Linked DNA regions of Homo sapiens: region 1 is linked to region 2. Evidence: fine-mapped expression QTL. Tissue or cell type: whole blood. Region 2 holds a variant in brackets; the other region holds the start of a gene. All regions are shown on one strand. Distances are from middle to middle.

The links. PIP is the estimated chance that this variant, and not a neighbour inherited with it, causes the effect.
Region 1: it holds the start of RINT1, and the variant in region 2 is fine-mapped to the expression of RINT1 in whole blood (TOPMed, PIP above 0.99).

Annotation. Positions count from the first base shown.
Region 1 is chr7:105,528,922-105,537,027 of GRCh38, reverse strand. RINT1 (RAD50 interactor 1) reads right to left here and starts at 4,827. Exons shown (of 15, transcript NM_021930.6): 1 at 4,671-4,827; 2 at 4,159-4,204; 3 at 279-463. The coding sequence starts at 4,712. It also overlaps the pseudogene LOC100131785. RefSeq lists enhancers at 4,055-4,631, 4,477-4,656, 4,747-5,046, 4,632-5,209, 5,497-5,546.
Region 2 is chr7:105,561,660-105,569,765 of GRCh38, reverse strand. RINT1 (RAD50 interactor 1) reads right to left here. Exons shown (of 15, transcript NM_021930.6): 12 at 5,819-6,033; 13 at 4,309-4,489; 14 at 4,118-4,236; 15 at 2,089-2,647. The coding sequence ends at 2,455. EFCAB10 (EF-hand calcium binding domain 10) reads left to right here. Exons shown (of 5, transcript NM_001355526.2): 2 at 195-359; 3 at 476-563; 4 at 2,276-2,299; 5 at 4,319-4,642. The coding sequence ends at 4,319. Among named protein-coding and RNA genes, the nearest start is that of EFCAB10-AS1, 5.4 kb to the left of the region's middle. The variant A/T (reference allele first, on the strand shown) is at 4,303.

The DNA of each region.
Region 1 (8,106 bases), 33 kb after region 2:
ACAGATTGAAAGGAAAAAAAAGTCACTCTATGAAAATCTATGTAAAATGTTAGGTCTCACTATGTTTTGAAGACAAACCATATCAGTAGGAACTTTGTCTTTTACCTAATTTGTAAAATAGGTAATACAATGTACGTTCTTAAATCCTCTTAAACAGTATATAATAGACTATTTGTCACGTTCTATATCTTTAAAATTCTATATATAATAGATTATGTTTATATTATATTGTTAAAAGTATTCCACTGATAATTATTTCAGTGAGTTTCAATACTTACCTGTTCTTCTAACTGCATTTTACTTACTGTCCTCTGTTCTATGAGTTTATCAAGTTTCTTTAAAGATTTAAGGTCATTTCCAACTTCCTTTTCTATGAATGCAGACACATAAGAAGGGAGATCACCATTATCTGTACCTTCACTGACTTGTTTACTTCCAATAAGAACTGTAACATTTATGTCACCTACAACAAAAGAATAACAATTACTCAACGCCACTAAGTACTATGGAGTTAAAGAAAATATAAAACATATAAAAGCAGTTTATCTGCCTTCAAAAGTTAATAATTTTGCCAGGCACGGTGGCTCACACCTGTGATCCCAGCACTTTGGGAGGCTGAGGCAGGTGCATCACCTGAGGCCAGGAGTTTAAGACTAGCCTGGCAAACACGGCGAAATCCCGTCTCTACTAAAAATACAAAAATTAGCCAGGCGTGGGGGCACAGGCCTGTAGTCCCAGCTATTCGGGAGGCTGAGGCACGAGAATCCCTTGAACCCAAGAGGCAGAGGTTGCAGTGAGCCAAGATCACACCACTGCACTCCAGCCTGGGCGACACAGACAGACTCTGTATCAAAAAACAAAACCAAAACAAAGCGCCACTGCACTCCAGCCTGGGCGACAGAGACTCTGTATCAAAAAACAAAACCAAAACAAAACAAAGTTAATAATTTAAAGAACAACACACACAGACAAATGCCCAGAAGAATAGCTCTAAAGCACTCTATCAAACAACTACTGCAAAATGCTTAAGAGCTGAGGGAAGTATTAAAGGAAAAATTCCTAAAGTGTGATCCAGTAACCACAGGTTTCAATAGACAAGGAATAATACCTTTTCAAAATGTGTAAGGAACCAGTAGTATGGTCTAGGGCAACACCAAAAGAAGACTCTTGTTTTAAAGTGTTTTTAAAAAGACCGGGCGCAGGGGCTCACACCTGTAATCCCAGCACTGTGGGAGGCCAAGGCAGGAGGATCACTTGAGCCCAGAAGTTCTAGACCAGCCTAGGCAACAAAGCAAGACTTCATCTAACAAAATTAGCCAGGAATGGTGGAACACACCTGTAGTCTCAGGTGGGCTGAGGTGGGAGGATTGCTTGAGCAGCCTGGGAGATGGAGGCTGCAGTGAGCCATGATCTCACTACTACATTCCAGCCTGGACAGCAGAGCAAGACCTCATCTCTTAAAAACAAACAAACAAACAAACAAAAAAGTAAAAAAGGTTTGGCTGGGCGAGGTGGCTCAGGCCTGTAATCTCAGCACTTTGGGAGGTTGAGGCAGGCAGATCACAAGGTCAGGAGTTCGAGACCAGCCTGGCCAATATGGTGAAAACCTGTCTCTACTAAAAATACAAAAATTAGCTGGGCATGGCGGTGCACGCTTATAGTCCCAGCTACTCGGGAGGCTGAGGCAGAAGAATCGCTTGAACCCGGGAGGCGGAGGTTGCAGTGAGCCGAGATCACGCCACTGCACTCCAGCCTGGGCAACAGAGTGAGACTCTGCCTCAAAAAAAAAAAAAAAAAAGGTTTTTAAGCTTCAAATGTCATCGATGTCATTGTACAAAGATATCTTTGTCAGAAACAGAAAAAAGAAAATATGAGAGAACAAATTACTAGGAAAAAATCAAAATGACAAATGCAACCACTAAATAGTATAAAGTGAGATTCTTTCCATGGCAAATAAACTACCTGTTTTGTGACATTTAATAAGTCCAATACACATTAGGCTTATTAATATTAATATCTAAATAATGATATGCCTAAGTGCAAAATGTAAATGTCAGATATTGGTCAACTATTTATGTAAAGATTAACAGAATATATACCAATGTTTTATACAGAGTATGTTCCTGTCTCCACCCCTACACCCCAACAAACAAAATTTCCTTTGTTCTACTTAACTTATATGAATTAAATTAAAAGATTTTTCACATGCTGTGAGAATCAGGAGGTGGTACTGACCTTTTCCCCCTTTCCTGTTCAGTGCAAGATCCAGAACCCAAGCTATACATTGTGCCTTCCCAGAGCAATTTTAAATTGACAATTTAGAGGGTAGGAGAGGCAATATTAACATAACACTATGCCTCAATTTTCCAACTAGAAAACAAATTGTAACATTTGCCCCAGCCTATATCTCAAGGTTATAAATGGGACTATATAATACAAATTATATATTAATTATACTATATAATTATATATAATATTAACGTATAATAATCTACTATTATGTACAGAACTCACAATGCCTTTTTTAAATCTTAAATAAAACAAGTGATTTGTGTGGTGTATCTGCAGATAAATGGAGGCAGGAAATGTTTTGTGAATGCTAAAGTTGCTGTATCTTAGGGAGGAAATTCTACCTTCATTTTTTAAAAAAAATTACACCCACTGAGCACAGTGGCTCATGCCTATAATCCCAGCACTTTGGAAGGCCGAGGACGGTGGATTGCCTGAGGTCAGGAGTTCAAGACCAGCCTAACCAAAATGGTGAAACCCTGCCTCTACTAAAAATACAAAAATTAGCCGGGTGTTTGGCGGGCACCAGTAATCCCAGCTACTGAGGAGGCCGAGGCAGGGGAATTACTTGAACTCAGAGGCGGAGCTTGCAGTAAGGCGAGATCGCGCCACTGCACTCCAGCCTGAGAGACAGAGTGAGACTAAGTCTCAAAAAAAAAAAAAATTACACCCTTGATGTGTAACCATTCAAATGTGGCATAGTACATTCTTAGTGAAATGACATTCTTCAAAATGACACACCGGTGGTTTGGGAGGTTTTTATGTGTCTCCTTTTCTATTTTTTGTAAAGAGCACTCCTAACTGCAAAGCAGTTTGAGCTGTGGAAAGAGGAACAAGGTCAAAGTCCTTGATATGATAGTCTACATCTATTATTTTATTAAAATGACAGCTCAGTAGGCATCAGACTACTTTCCAGGCATCTGAATGAGGCAAAGGTGGAAAATGGAAAGGGAAGGGTTTAACTGAGAGATACAAGGCACTCTGAAATCCTTCAAGAAAAAGGAGCTGAGATGTGGCAGTTATGACAGTCATGTGCTATGGACTGCTCAGAGCCTTCTTTCTGAGGCAGATTCTATCAGCCGCTAATGTTAAGGGCAAATCTTACTCCTAAGGGCCATGTGCTAATGTGGGCACCGTTTTTCTTACTGCTACACATTCCCAACTGTTTGCCACAGTCAAAAGAACCAAAAATCCCAATAGCAGAGCTATCACATGCTTTTCCCCTTCCTCTCCCAAAAAATGTCACTTCAAAGGTCCCTAAAGAGCCCTTGATTTGCAATAACCTGCCATCAAAGTAAAATGGCAAAAGTCCACAACCCTGACATATACTCCCGTACTAGGGAGGAAATGGTGGTACTGACCTTTTCCCCCTTTCCTGTCCAGTCCAAGATCCAGAACCCAAGTTATCCGTTGTGCTCTTGCCAGAGCAATTTTAAATTGCCAATTTACTGAAGGTGAACTAAACAACTGTCATTTGCCTCCTTTGAACCCAATTAGGGTGGTGGTCGTCTGTCCTAGATCATGGGCCCCTCCAAATTCCTGATGCTTAGTAAGTTGATGTTTCATTAAAATGACAGGCAGGCCCCAATTATTCTGAGTACTGTATGATAGGCAGACTTCCAGCGAAAACACTCTAGTCCCTGTACTAGGTATGGATCGGGAAGTGCTCTTCTCCAAAGCATCCCATATTTTACAATTTTAGAAAGACAAAAATATGTGTATCATGGTCATCAGTATTACCATATAAGCATATTGTGCAGAAAACGGTACTGCATCTAAAAGATAGGCAAAGAACCTTTCTATATTGCAGACCCTGGAAGGCTGAGTTTGGGCGGGAAGAAAAAGCTAAGGTGTTTGGAGCTGGCTTACTTTTCTCCTCGAGGTTCTTCCTTTCGTCACCACTTTCAGAGCAGCACTAGAAGAAGAACAGATGTGACAAGCACATTAAGATTAAAGTCGTGGATGGAAAGCATACGGGGCTCCCAAAGGGCACCCACTGGAGGCAAGAGAGGTTCCAGACGCTCTCCCACTTTCTGAGCGACCAGGGCCGTCCGAATCAGGTACCTCAAAGTGCCACTGTCCTGGTGCCACCGCCACCTTCCCAGGAGGTGTGTGTCACCTCCGCAGGACCTGGAGTTACCTTGCCTGCTCACTAGAGCCACCTCCCTAGAGAAATCTGTCATCTCACCAGGGCCGCCAAAGCCACTTCACGGGGACTACCGCCTCCTCTAGGAGGTCTTACAAGGGCCTCTAATCTAAGCCGCAGGAAGCACCTTCACAAGCTTACAGGGCCACCGCACCGGGACTATCTCCCCCGGGAGGTCTGTGCCACCTCAATGGGCCACCAATGTCCCCTCCCAGGGACGCCAGGGCCGTCTCACCGGGGCTGCAGGAGAGGCGCCGATCTCGCCGGCTGGTAGCATCTCGCCTCCGCGCGAGTCCTCGGCTCCATTCGCAGCCAGCGTGGCCTGTGGAGTCTGGCTAAGGCCAGCGACACACTCACTACCCAGCCTCGGAGGCCGTAGGACTGAGTGCCACAGCGACTTCCTCTCGATGTCTCACTGGTTTCTTCCTCTCAGCCCAGAGAGGCCCTGCCCGTGCAGCCGCCGGCCGTGCTCTGTTCCTCCCCCTCCTGACCGGAGGTCGGAACGGCCACTCAGGAAGCGGGCACCCTCCCCTATGGAGCTCCAGAGAAGGGATTCGCTCACTCCACCGCGGTAAAAGTCCCCTCCACTTTATTGAAGCTCTTAATGATGGAACTTTAAGATATCCCTCTCCCAACGCCTTAAATTCAATATGAATAATTTAAATTTATATTTTAGGCAATATCCAGATGTTCTGAGAGTGTGGGGGGCTTGTTGACTAGGAGCTTCGGTGCAGGGTTATTTGGTTCGAATATTTAGTTGGGGGTTTCCAATGAATGTCAGTATCTTTAGATATTTCTTTTAACGTTGGTCAGAGTCCCTAGAGATGAGCTTCTGATTTCCTGCCTAGAGGGTGTAGAGGTGGTTATAAGCGTTCTGGGAGCTGAATGAAGAGAACAGAGCATCTAACATGTGTTTCGCCCAAAACCCTGTCTTTTACCAGGGAGGAGGAAAGGGAGCTACCTAGCAGCAAGGGTTGTGTAGAGGACCTGTGGACTTGACAGCCTCTTAAACAAACTAACACGGAAGGAGTACCATAGAGACCATAACAAACAAGGGGGGGGGAAAGCAACCCTCAGAGGAAAAAGAAACCACACGGTGAGAAGAAAAATCAAATACATGTGCACAGAGATATATAATCGAGCTACAAATTACTATTGCAAGCATAAAACAAGGATGGCTGGGCGCTGTGGCTCACGCCTGTAATCCCAGCACTTTGGGAGGCCGAGGCAGGCAGATTACGAGGTCAGGAGATCGAGACCATCCTGGCTAACATGGTGAAACCCCGTCTCTACTAAAAATACAAAAAATTAGCCAGGCGTGGTGGTGGGCGCCTGTAGTCCCAGCTACTCAGGAGGCTGAGGCAGGAGAATGGCGTGAACCCGGGAGGTGGAGCGTGCAGTGAGCAGAGACCGCACCACTGCACTCTAGCCTGGACGACAGAGCAAGACTCCGTCTCATTTAAAAAAAAAAAAAAAAACAAGGATACTATTTTTTAAATTACCTATTATGGGAACATAATCGTATATATTTATAGTGTACATGTGTGTTTGTTTTTTTTTTGCTCAGGCTGGGGTGCAATGGCGTTATCTCTGCTCGCAGCAACCTCCGCCTCCCAGGTTCAAGCGATTCGCCTGCCTCAGCCTCCCAAGTAGCTGGGATTACAGGCATGCACCACCACGCCCGTCTAATTTTGTATTTTTAGTAGAGACGATGTTTCTCCATGTTAGTCAGGCTGGTCTCGAACTCCCGGCCTCGGGTGAACTGCCCGCCTTGGCGTACCAAAGTGCTGGGATTACAGGTGTGAGCCACTGCGCCCGGCCTTTTTTTCTGGGGCGGGGCGGGGGACGGGTAAAGAAATTTTAATGAGGATTCAAGGTTTGTAGGGAAGACACAGAGGACCGGCGCTCAGCCCCAGCCTCCTCACGTGTACATGGCTCCATGGAGGTTCTCCAGTCGGTTCTGCTGCTGCTGCTGTTTTCGAGCCTTATCTCGTCTGTGTTCCTCATAAGTGTAGTCATCAGTGGGCAGCTCATGGCGGCACAAGGGACAGGAATTTGTCTTGCTTAGCCAGGGCAGAATGCAACTGGAATGAAAAAGGTGTTGGGAAGCATCTCAATGGCAGTCTCCTCCTCAGATTCCAAAAGATACACGGGGCACTTGAGCTCAGCCTTGAGAGCCTCTGATGACTGTCCTGGAGAGGTTCTCAACCACAATCTTGGCAGCCGGTGGAGGCAGGTGGTGGTCCCAATCTACTACCAACCCCAAGTCTTCAAAGTCCATCCTATTCAAAAGTGACCTTACGAGCTCCAGCACCATGTTGGTTCGAGTCTCCTGCTTGAGGGTCCAACGGCTCACAGTCGTGTTCATCGATATAGGACGCCATGGCTGCCCAGCCGTCTGACATGTGATGTTTTGATACAGGTATACAATGTGTAACTATCAAATCCGAGTAACTGGGGTATTGATCATCTTGAGAATTTATCATTTCTTTGTGTTAGGAACAGTCCAATTCCACTCTTTTAGTTATTTTAAAATATGCAATAAATTATTAACTGTAGTCACTCTGTTTTATTGTTGTTGTTGTCGTCATTTGTTTTGGTTTTGGTTTTTTTGTTTGTTTTTTGAGACAAGTTCTCCCTCTGTTGCCCAGGCAGGAGTGCAGTGGTGCAGCCATAACCCACTGTAACCTCAAACTCCTGGGCTCAAGGGATCCACCCACCTCAGCCTCCTGAGTAGCTAGGACTATAGACTGGCACCACCATTCCTGGCTAACTTTTTTTTGTTGAGACAGTGACTCGCTATGTTGCCCAGGCTGGGCTCTACTCCTGAGCTCAAGCGATTCTCCTGTCTTGACCTCCCAAAGTGCTAGGATTACAGCCATGAGCCACTGCACCTGGCCCCTAACTGTATTTTTGGACCCATTAACCATCCCCAATTTATGCCTTCCTCCCTGCTACCCTTTCAGCCTTTGGTAACAATCATTCTACTCTCTATCTCCTTGAATTCAATTTGTTTAATGTTAAGCTCCCACATATGAGAGAAAAGGATACTATTTAAAAGGAGCATTGGCTGGGCACGGTGGCTCCTGCCTGTAATCTCAGCACTTTGGGAGGCTGAGGCAGAACAAATTGCCTGAGGTCAGGAGTTCAAGACCAGCCTGGCCAACATGGTGAAAGCCTGTCTCTACTAAAAGTACAAAAATTAGCCAGGCCTGGTGGTGGGAGCCTGTAATCCCAGCTACCCAGGAGGCTGAGGCAGGAGAATCTCTTGAACCCAGCAGGCAGAGGTTGCAGCGAGCCGAGATTACACCACTGCACTCCAGCTGGGCAACAAAGCAAAACTCTGTCTCAAACATAAATAATTAAATAGATAAATAAATGAATAATAAAAGGAGCACTCACTTGTAAATGGGGAGGGTAAAAATAAATAAAATAAGAAAAGCATTCAGAGATGAAAAAATATGACAGCAGAAATTAAAATTTCAAGAGTGGAAAGATAGGCCAAGTGCAGTGGCTCACGCCTGTAATCCCAACACTTTGGGAGGCCAAGGCACGTGGATCGCTTGAGGCCAGGAGTTCGAGACCAGCCTGGCCAACATGGTGAAACCTGGTCTCTACTAAAAATACAAAATATTAGCTGGCCATTGTGGCACGTGCACCTATAGTCCCTG
Region 2 (8,106 bases):
CATTTGTATATGTAATTATTTAAGTGTTCAATGTCTTACCTTCTTGCTGGACTGTTTATGAAAACTAAGGCCTGTGTCCCCAGCGCCTAGTACAGTGCCTTTGCTATAGCTGTTTAATAATTGTTAAATGACTACTTCTATTTGCGACATATTTTAATTTCGTATCAGAAAGAGCTGGAACTATTCTTTTGCAGAAAAACCAAAAGAATATTTAATATCTCTATTGGAACGACTGAGAATTGCAAAAGTAACAGGCGTGGCGTTTCCTTTCTTTATGGATAACTCTAACATTGTGGCTATGTTTGAGATGATGGACTCCTCAGGCAGAGGCACCATATCATTTGTGCAGTATAAAGAAGGTCAGTACATTCTACAAATTGAGGTAATAGTTTGTGGTCATTCCACAGTTTTTTCTAGCAGAAAATACTTCTCACTTTGTAAAATTCTCACTTCATTTCTTCTCATTATTTTACAGCCCTAAAAACCCTGGGTCTATGCACTGAAGATGAAGATTTACAAGATGATGGACATAAAATAACTTTGGATAAATTCAAGGAGGAAGTGTAAGTTTATTTTTAAGTGACAAATATTTTAATAAGGTGGCATGATTTTGAAGCACAATTAATACCTTTAAAACAGGTTCCTATCTTTTGAAAGAAATATTTTGTTCCCTTGAAACTTTCAGCTGACTGGAAAGTGAGGACAGGTAAGGCTGACGGTAAAGTCCCTAAACTTGGGAATAGGAAGGGAAAATGCTGGGGTTAGAGAGGAAGTTCCAGAGGCAGCTCCATTCTTTTTTTTTTTTTTTTTTTCCCTGAGATGGAGTCTTGCTCTGTTGCCCAGGCTGGAGTGCAGTGGCAATATGTCGGCTCACTGCAACCTCCACCTCCCGGGTTCAAGCGATTCTCCTGCCTCAGCTTCCCAGTAGCTGGGCTTACAGATGCGCATCACCACATCCAGATAATTTTTTTGTATTTTTAGTAGAGTCAGGGTTTCATCATGTTGGCCAGGCTGGTCTCAAACTCCTGATCTCAAGTGATCCACTGCCTCGGCCTCTCAAAGTGCTGGGATTACAGGCATGTAATGGGCTGTGCCCAGCCAGCTCCATTCTAAATAGGAAGCCCCAGCAATTCTCAAAGGATGAGGTGAAGAAGCACCAATATGCTAGGACAACTAACAAACAGAAACATTTTGAGCTCAACACACTAGCTGGAAACTCTCTCTATAAAATACATACTAATAGAATCTATCTCAAAATATTTCCTCAAAATTATCACAAAGTAAATGTTTATCAGAAGCATAGGCTGCATGTTAGTCTGATAATTTTAGATTTTGAGATATTACAGGATTAAAAGTACTAACCCACTGCTAAGTCAGAGAAAAACCATTGGAATAAAATTTAATAGTTGTGGAAAGTTTCCAGGGAATCTAGCTCAATTTTTTAAAGAGTTTTACTCTGAGATTTTATTAGTCAAGTAACTATTATTGAATATACCCCAAGGACAAGGAAAAGTTACAAGAAAAAATAAACTTTTGAGACTTTTGTCTCATAAGTTACATAAATAATAAAAATGTTTAATTACATTCCCTACCACATGGGAATGTTTGAGTCAGAGTGCCATGGCCTGAAATGTTTCATCCAGAAAGAAAGGGTTGCCCACTGTCACACAGAATGAAACTAGGAAGCATTTAAAATAGAAGGGCATTTGTGAGAAATGAAGAACAATCCTATCTTATTCACCATCTCACAATGTGTTTTGTTTTGTTCTTTAGAGACAGGGTCTTGTTCGCTTGCCCAGGCTGCTGTGCCGTGTCACAATCAGAGCTCACTGTAGTCTTGACCTCCTGGGCTCAAGCTAGCCTCCCACCTCAGCCTCCCAAGTAGCTAGAACTACAGGCATGCATCAGGGTCTTGACATGTTGGCCAGGATGTTTTCGCACTCCTGCCTCAAGCAATCCTCCTACCTCAGCCTCCCAAAGTGCTGGGATTACAGGCATGAGACACTGTGCCCTGCCAGTTTCCTCATGGAAATACAGTTAATTCCCAAACTAGATACAGGTGCCTCAATTACAAATATGCATTCAAAGGGAGTTTTAAAAAAATTTATTGGCTATGTTTGATTATCCACAACAGAATTTCCCTTAATTAGCACAGGAAATTGAAAGTTGGTTATAATTTAATATCTCTGCTCGTCTTCAACAGACATACTCAGCATTTATACTTGTAAATAGAATTGAGTTTTCATTGTTTCGTTTTCTGTTTTTGTTTCCTTAGGAACAAGAGGATGAAGGAAATATGGTCAGCATTTTAATAACACCATAAATCCAAGATAATAAGTAATTCTATAAAGTTTTCCAGTTTCATTAATTCAGAATTTCATCATATAACTTGAAATCCAATTGGCTTCCTCTTTCTTAGAAACAAAAACCAAAGAAACCTTTTTCTGAAAGACATTATTTTCCAGTATTAGGCCAATTTGTCCTCAAATTAAGTAGAATCTCAACATCTTGTTGAGCCAGTTTGTAAATTCCAACTTCATTTAATGCTGCTGTGGCAGGAAGCTGCCCTGAAGCTGACTGCAGTACATCTTTCAGCAGTAGTGCAGAACCGACGTTCAAATTCAAAACAATACAGGCTTCTTTTATACTGTTTAGGGAAAACAAAGGAGGGAAATGAGATCTCCATTATCTGCATCAATTATATTACAATTTTGAGAATCCTAAACAGCTTCTCTGCACTGCTGGTCCACATGTTCTCTATAAAAATATTTATGGATTTATTATTTGGTTCTTTTAACATGGTAAGACTACACAGGTGCAGAGTTGCTATTTCTTTAGATTACTATAAGGTAATACGATCCCTATTTCAATATGTATCCGTTATTTCCCTAAATACAATACTTAATATTAACACTATATTAAATATAGCTATAACTTTAGGTAGATTAGAACATGGGAAAAGACAAAAATAAGAGATAAATGAAAGCAGCAGAAAGAACATTAAAATAAATTTTAAAAACAGTCCTATGAAACGTGTAAACATAAGCTTTCATTTTATAAGTCTAAAAGGAATGCTTTATAACCTCACAAAACCCAAACATAATTTAAATTTTACTTTTTTTTTTTGAGACATGGTCTTGCTCTGTCACCTAGGCTGGAGTGAAACTGCACGATCATAGCTCACTACAGCCTCAGCCTCTCAAGTAGCTAGGACTACAGGTCCACACCCCCACACCTGGCTTTTTTTTGTTTGTTCATTTTAATACTTTCTGTAGAGATGGAGTCTTGCTATGTTGCCCAGGCTGGTCTCAAACAGCTGGCCTCAAGCAATTCTCCCACCTCTGCCTCCCAAAGTACTGGGATTACAGATGTGGGCTACTATGCCTGGCCTATAAATTTTAGATCAACAAATTCTGAAACTATAATTATATTTAGAACCAAAATTAATGTCAAATGTTTAAGGAAACAAATTTCTTTCAGGCCTGGCCTATTAGGTATTAAACATATTTGTAATTTTTTTTTTTTTTTGAGACAGTCTTGGCTCACTGCAAGCTCCGCCTCCCGGGTTCACATCATTCTCCTGCCTCAGCCTCCCAAGCAGGTGGGACTACAGGTGCCCGCCACCAGGCCTGGCTAATTTTTTTTTTTTTGGTATTTTTAGTAGAGATGGGGGTATCACTATGTTAGCCAGGATGGTCTCGATCTCCTGACTTTGTGATCTGCCCAACTCAGCCTCCCGAAGTGTTGGGATTACAGGCGTGAGCCACCACGCCCGGCCCTGTAATTTCTTATATTTAGTGAATAGGGCACAACTGTACTTGTTTTCATTTTCTATTTATTCCTCCAGTAACTAAGCAACTAGAAGCATTAAACCAAATACTAGAAAACAAAACCCAACAGGTAATTTATATCTAGTTCTGAAACTTTTTGAGGTCATGGGTCACATCTATCATCTTGGTTTCCCCATTGTGCTGTAAGCATACAGTAGATAGACAATGTTTTAAAATTTCAACTGATCTTATCCCACCCAAACATCTCCAGAACCCTAAAGTTAAAAGGAGTTAGCCTCCTGTAACAATTTGATACATTAATATTAATTGTTAAATGTTGAGCTTACTGTTTAAAATAATTTTCTGGTCTCTTGCAATAGTGAGAAAACAAAGGGAAAAGATTCCGAGTCATATCAAACTGCAGCTGGGCTGCTCCTCCTTCATTGAAGTGATTAGCAAGAATTATCTGAAACAAAGAATAATTCATATAACAGTTGTCTTTATTATCACAGCCCAAAAACAGTCTATTCTT[A/T]CTTACTTCTTGGTAGATGTATACATCCAGCTTCTCTACAAGCATTTGCCAGAAAATTTTAAATAAGGAGAAACAAAGCTGCTGCTCCAACTGAAGTAAATGGTCTCGTAACGTCAGCAGCAACGGGCAAGCCGAACTGGACAGGGACATCACTGCCTGCTCTGACTGAGATGGCAAGGACAACCATCTGGAAAAAACACATTTTTACCAAAAAATTTTCATCAGTTTCTATTTTTCAAGTTTTTAAATCATTTTAAATTTGAGGAAGTGTTCTGTCCTAGGGCATTTTGGATAAGAAAAAATATACAGCCTAACATTAAAAGCTCTATCAGAAAATAAATGTACCTGTATTTATATTTTCACTCTCAAATACTCTTTAATATGGGGATATATCCAAAATATCCCCAAATTTTAATATGTGAATTACTGATATAAGGCAATTACAATTTAAAATGTCACTTAATTTTTGCATTTTATTTATGTAGTTTTTCTTTTTTTTTGAGACAGAGTCTCGCTCTGTTGGCCAGGCTAGAGCCACAGGGTTCAAGCAATTCTCGTGTCAGCCTCCCAAGTAGCTGGGATTACAGGTGCCCACCACCACGCCCAGCTAATCTTTGAATTTTTTAGTAGAGACAGGGTTTCGCCATGTTGGCCAGGCTAGTTTCGAATTGCTGCCCTCAAGTAATCTGCCCGCCTTGGCCTCCCAAAGTGCTGGGATTACAGGTGTGAGCCACTGCACCCAGCCTGATTTTAGCATTTTAATTAAGACATCAGCTAATATTATCCTCTAATTTTTAGTAAAAACAGGACTAATAAACGAATTTTAAGCACTCTGTGTGGCAGGGACTATGCTAGGACAAAAAGATACTGCTTGCTATCAAGGATGAAAGTAACACAGGTGTTCACAGTGAATGGTAGTGGGATAAACCACAACAAAAGTATGCAGAGTACCACAGGTGCACTTTACTTTGCAAAATGGGAGACAGGTTAGGCTATTCAACCCCAGATCACACACTATCCTATTGATATATTTACAAACAACTAAATTATAATCAGTTTATTCTGATTAAGAATGTCAGCCAGGTGTGGTGGCTCACACCTGTAATCCTAGCACTTTGGGAGGCCGAGGCAGGTGGCTTGCCTGAGGTCAGGAGTTGGAGATCAGCCTGCCCAAAATGTGAAACCACATCTCTACTAAAAATACAAAAATTAGCCTTGTGTGGTGGTGCATGCCTGTAGTCCTGGCTACTTGGGAGGCTGAGGTGGGAAGGTCACTTGAACCTCTAAGGCAGAGGTTGCAATGAGCCAAGATCGTGCAACTGCACTCCAGCCTGGGTGACAGAGTAGGACTGTCTCAAAAAAAATGTCCAAGAGAACATACTTTAGAAATATTTCCATCAACAATAAAGTACATAAGGCCAAACCGGGTTCTATCTAGACACCTTGAAAATCTGACCACATATTCTTTAACTTTTACCAAACTGGTGTTAAGAGCTGACTTACATAGAGGACATACCTTTCTTTTTTATACAATTTTGCAGCATCTTTAACTTCTCTAAAAACGTGGTCTACTTGACGGGTCAACATATCATGCTTTAAACGTTCTAAGAGGTTAATCATGTCATCAAAGACAGAGCTCTCCATAGAGGCTAGCTGTCCTAGCTGCAATTTACTCAGAGTATTATTCTCTGCAAACACCTCCAGTGCAGCCTGTTGAAGTTGTAGAAAGAACTGAAAGCAAAAACATGTTAACACATTAGCATACTTTTTTTTTAACAGTTTGAAATAGAATTCATATGTCATACAATTCACCCATTTAAAGTGTATAATTCGACCGGGCACGGTGGCTCATGCCTGTAATCCCAGCACTTTGGGAGGCTGAGGTGGGTGGATCACCTGAGGTCAGGAGTTCGAAACCATCCTGGCCAACATGGTGAAACTCCAACTCTACTAAAAATACAAAAATAAGCCGGGTGTGGTGGCATGTGCCTGTAATCCTAGCTTGAACCTGGAAGGTGGAAGTTGCAGTGAGCCGAGATCATGCCTCTGCACTCCAGCCTGGGCGACAAAGTGAGACTCCATCTCAAAACTAATAATAGTGTATAATTCAATGATTTTTTTATATATTCAGTTGTATATCCATCACAATTTTAGAACATTTTCATCACCAAGAAAAAAGCCGTTATCCTCTAATACCGTCTCCCCACTCCCTCAACTCATAGGCAACCACTAATTGACTTTCTGTCTCAATGGATTTGCCTGTTCTGGACATTTCATATAAATGAAATCATACAACGTATGGTTGGTTGTGACTGTCTTCTTTCAGTACATTTTCAAGGTCTATCCATATTGTAACACGTATCATATTGTAACACGTATCAGCACTTCATTTTTTTTACATTGCCAGGTAATATTCCATTATATAGATAGACCACATTTTATTTATCCATTCATCAGCTGGTGGACATTTGGGTAGCTTCTACTTTGTCTATTATGAACAAATGCTGCTGTGAACATTTTTGTACAAGTTTTTTTTGTTTTGTTTTTTTGTTTTTTGTTTTGAGACGGAATCTCGCTCTGTCACCCAGGCTGGAGTGCAGTGGGGTGATCTTGGCTGACTGCAGTCTCCGCCTCCCGGGTTCAAGCGATTCTCCTGCCTCAGTCTCCTAAGTACCTGGGATTACGGGCGTGTGCCAGCACACCTGGCTAATTTTTTTTTTTGTAACTTTCGTAGAGATGGTGTTTCACCATGTTGGTCAGACTGGTCTCAAACTCCTGACCTCATGATCCGCCCACCTCAGCCTCCCAAAGTTCTGGGATTACAGGCGTGAGTCACCAAGCCTGGCAGTACAAGTTTTTATGTGGACATATGTTTCATTTCTCTTGGTATGTACTGAAGAGTGGAATTGCTGGATCTTATGGTAAGTCTATGTTTTAACAGTTTGAAAGGCTAGGCATGGTAGCTCATGCCTATAGTGCCAGCACTTTAAGAGGCTGAGGCCAGAGAATCATTTTATAGTGAGACCTTATCTCTAGAAAAAAATTAAAAATTAGCTGAGTGTGGTGGCCACAGACCTCCCAGCTACTCAGGAGGCTGAGATGGGAAGACTGCTGGAGCCCAGGAGGCAGAGGTTGCAGTGAGCCAAGATTGTGCCACTGCACTGCAGCCTGGGTGAAAGAACGAGATCTCATCTCAGAAAACAAAAAAACAGTTTGCGGAACTGCCATACTGTTTTCCACAGCAACTGTACCATGTTACATTCCCACTAGTCAATGTTAAACTATTCTGAAATGGAACAATCTCAAGATATATTGTTAACCGGAAAAAGCAGAAGAGTTTGCATAGTATGTTACCACACGTTGACATACACACACCAGTATTTATATAAATAGCTTTAGTAGTATATACAAGAAATTGATCAAAGTGATTGGCTTTAGGGAAGATTAGAATTAAGACTTATTTTCACTATATATATATTTTCAATATATACAGTTTTGTGGCTTTTGAATTTTGTATCACATGGATTACATATAGTGAAAAATATTTTTCTCTTTCAACTTCTGTGTACGGTAATCATGAACTTAAAAAAAATGACACTATCGGCCAGGCGTGGTGGCTCATGCCTGTAATCTCAGCACTTTGGGAGGCTGACGCAGGTGGATCACCTGAGGTCAGGAGTTTGAGACCAGCCTGGCCAACATAGTGAAATGCCATCTCTACTAAAAATACAAAAATTACCTGGGCATGGTGGCAGGTGCCTGTAATCCCAGCTACTCGGGAGGCTGAGGCAGAAGAATTGCTTG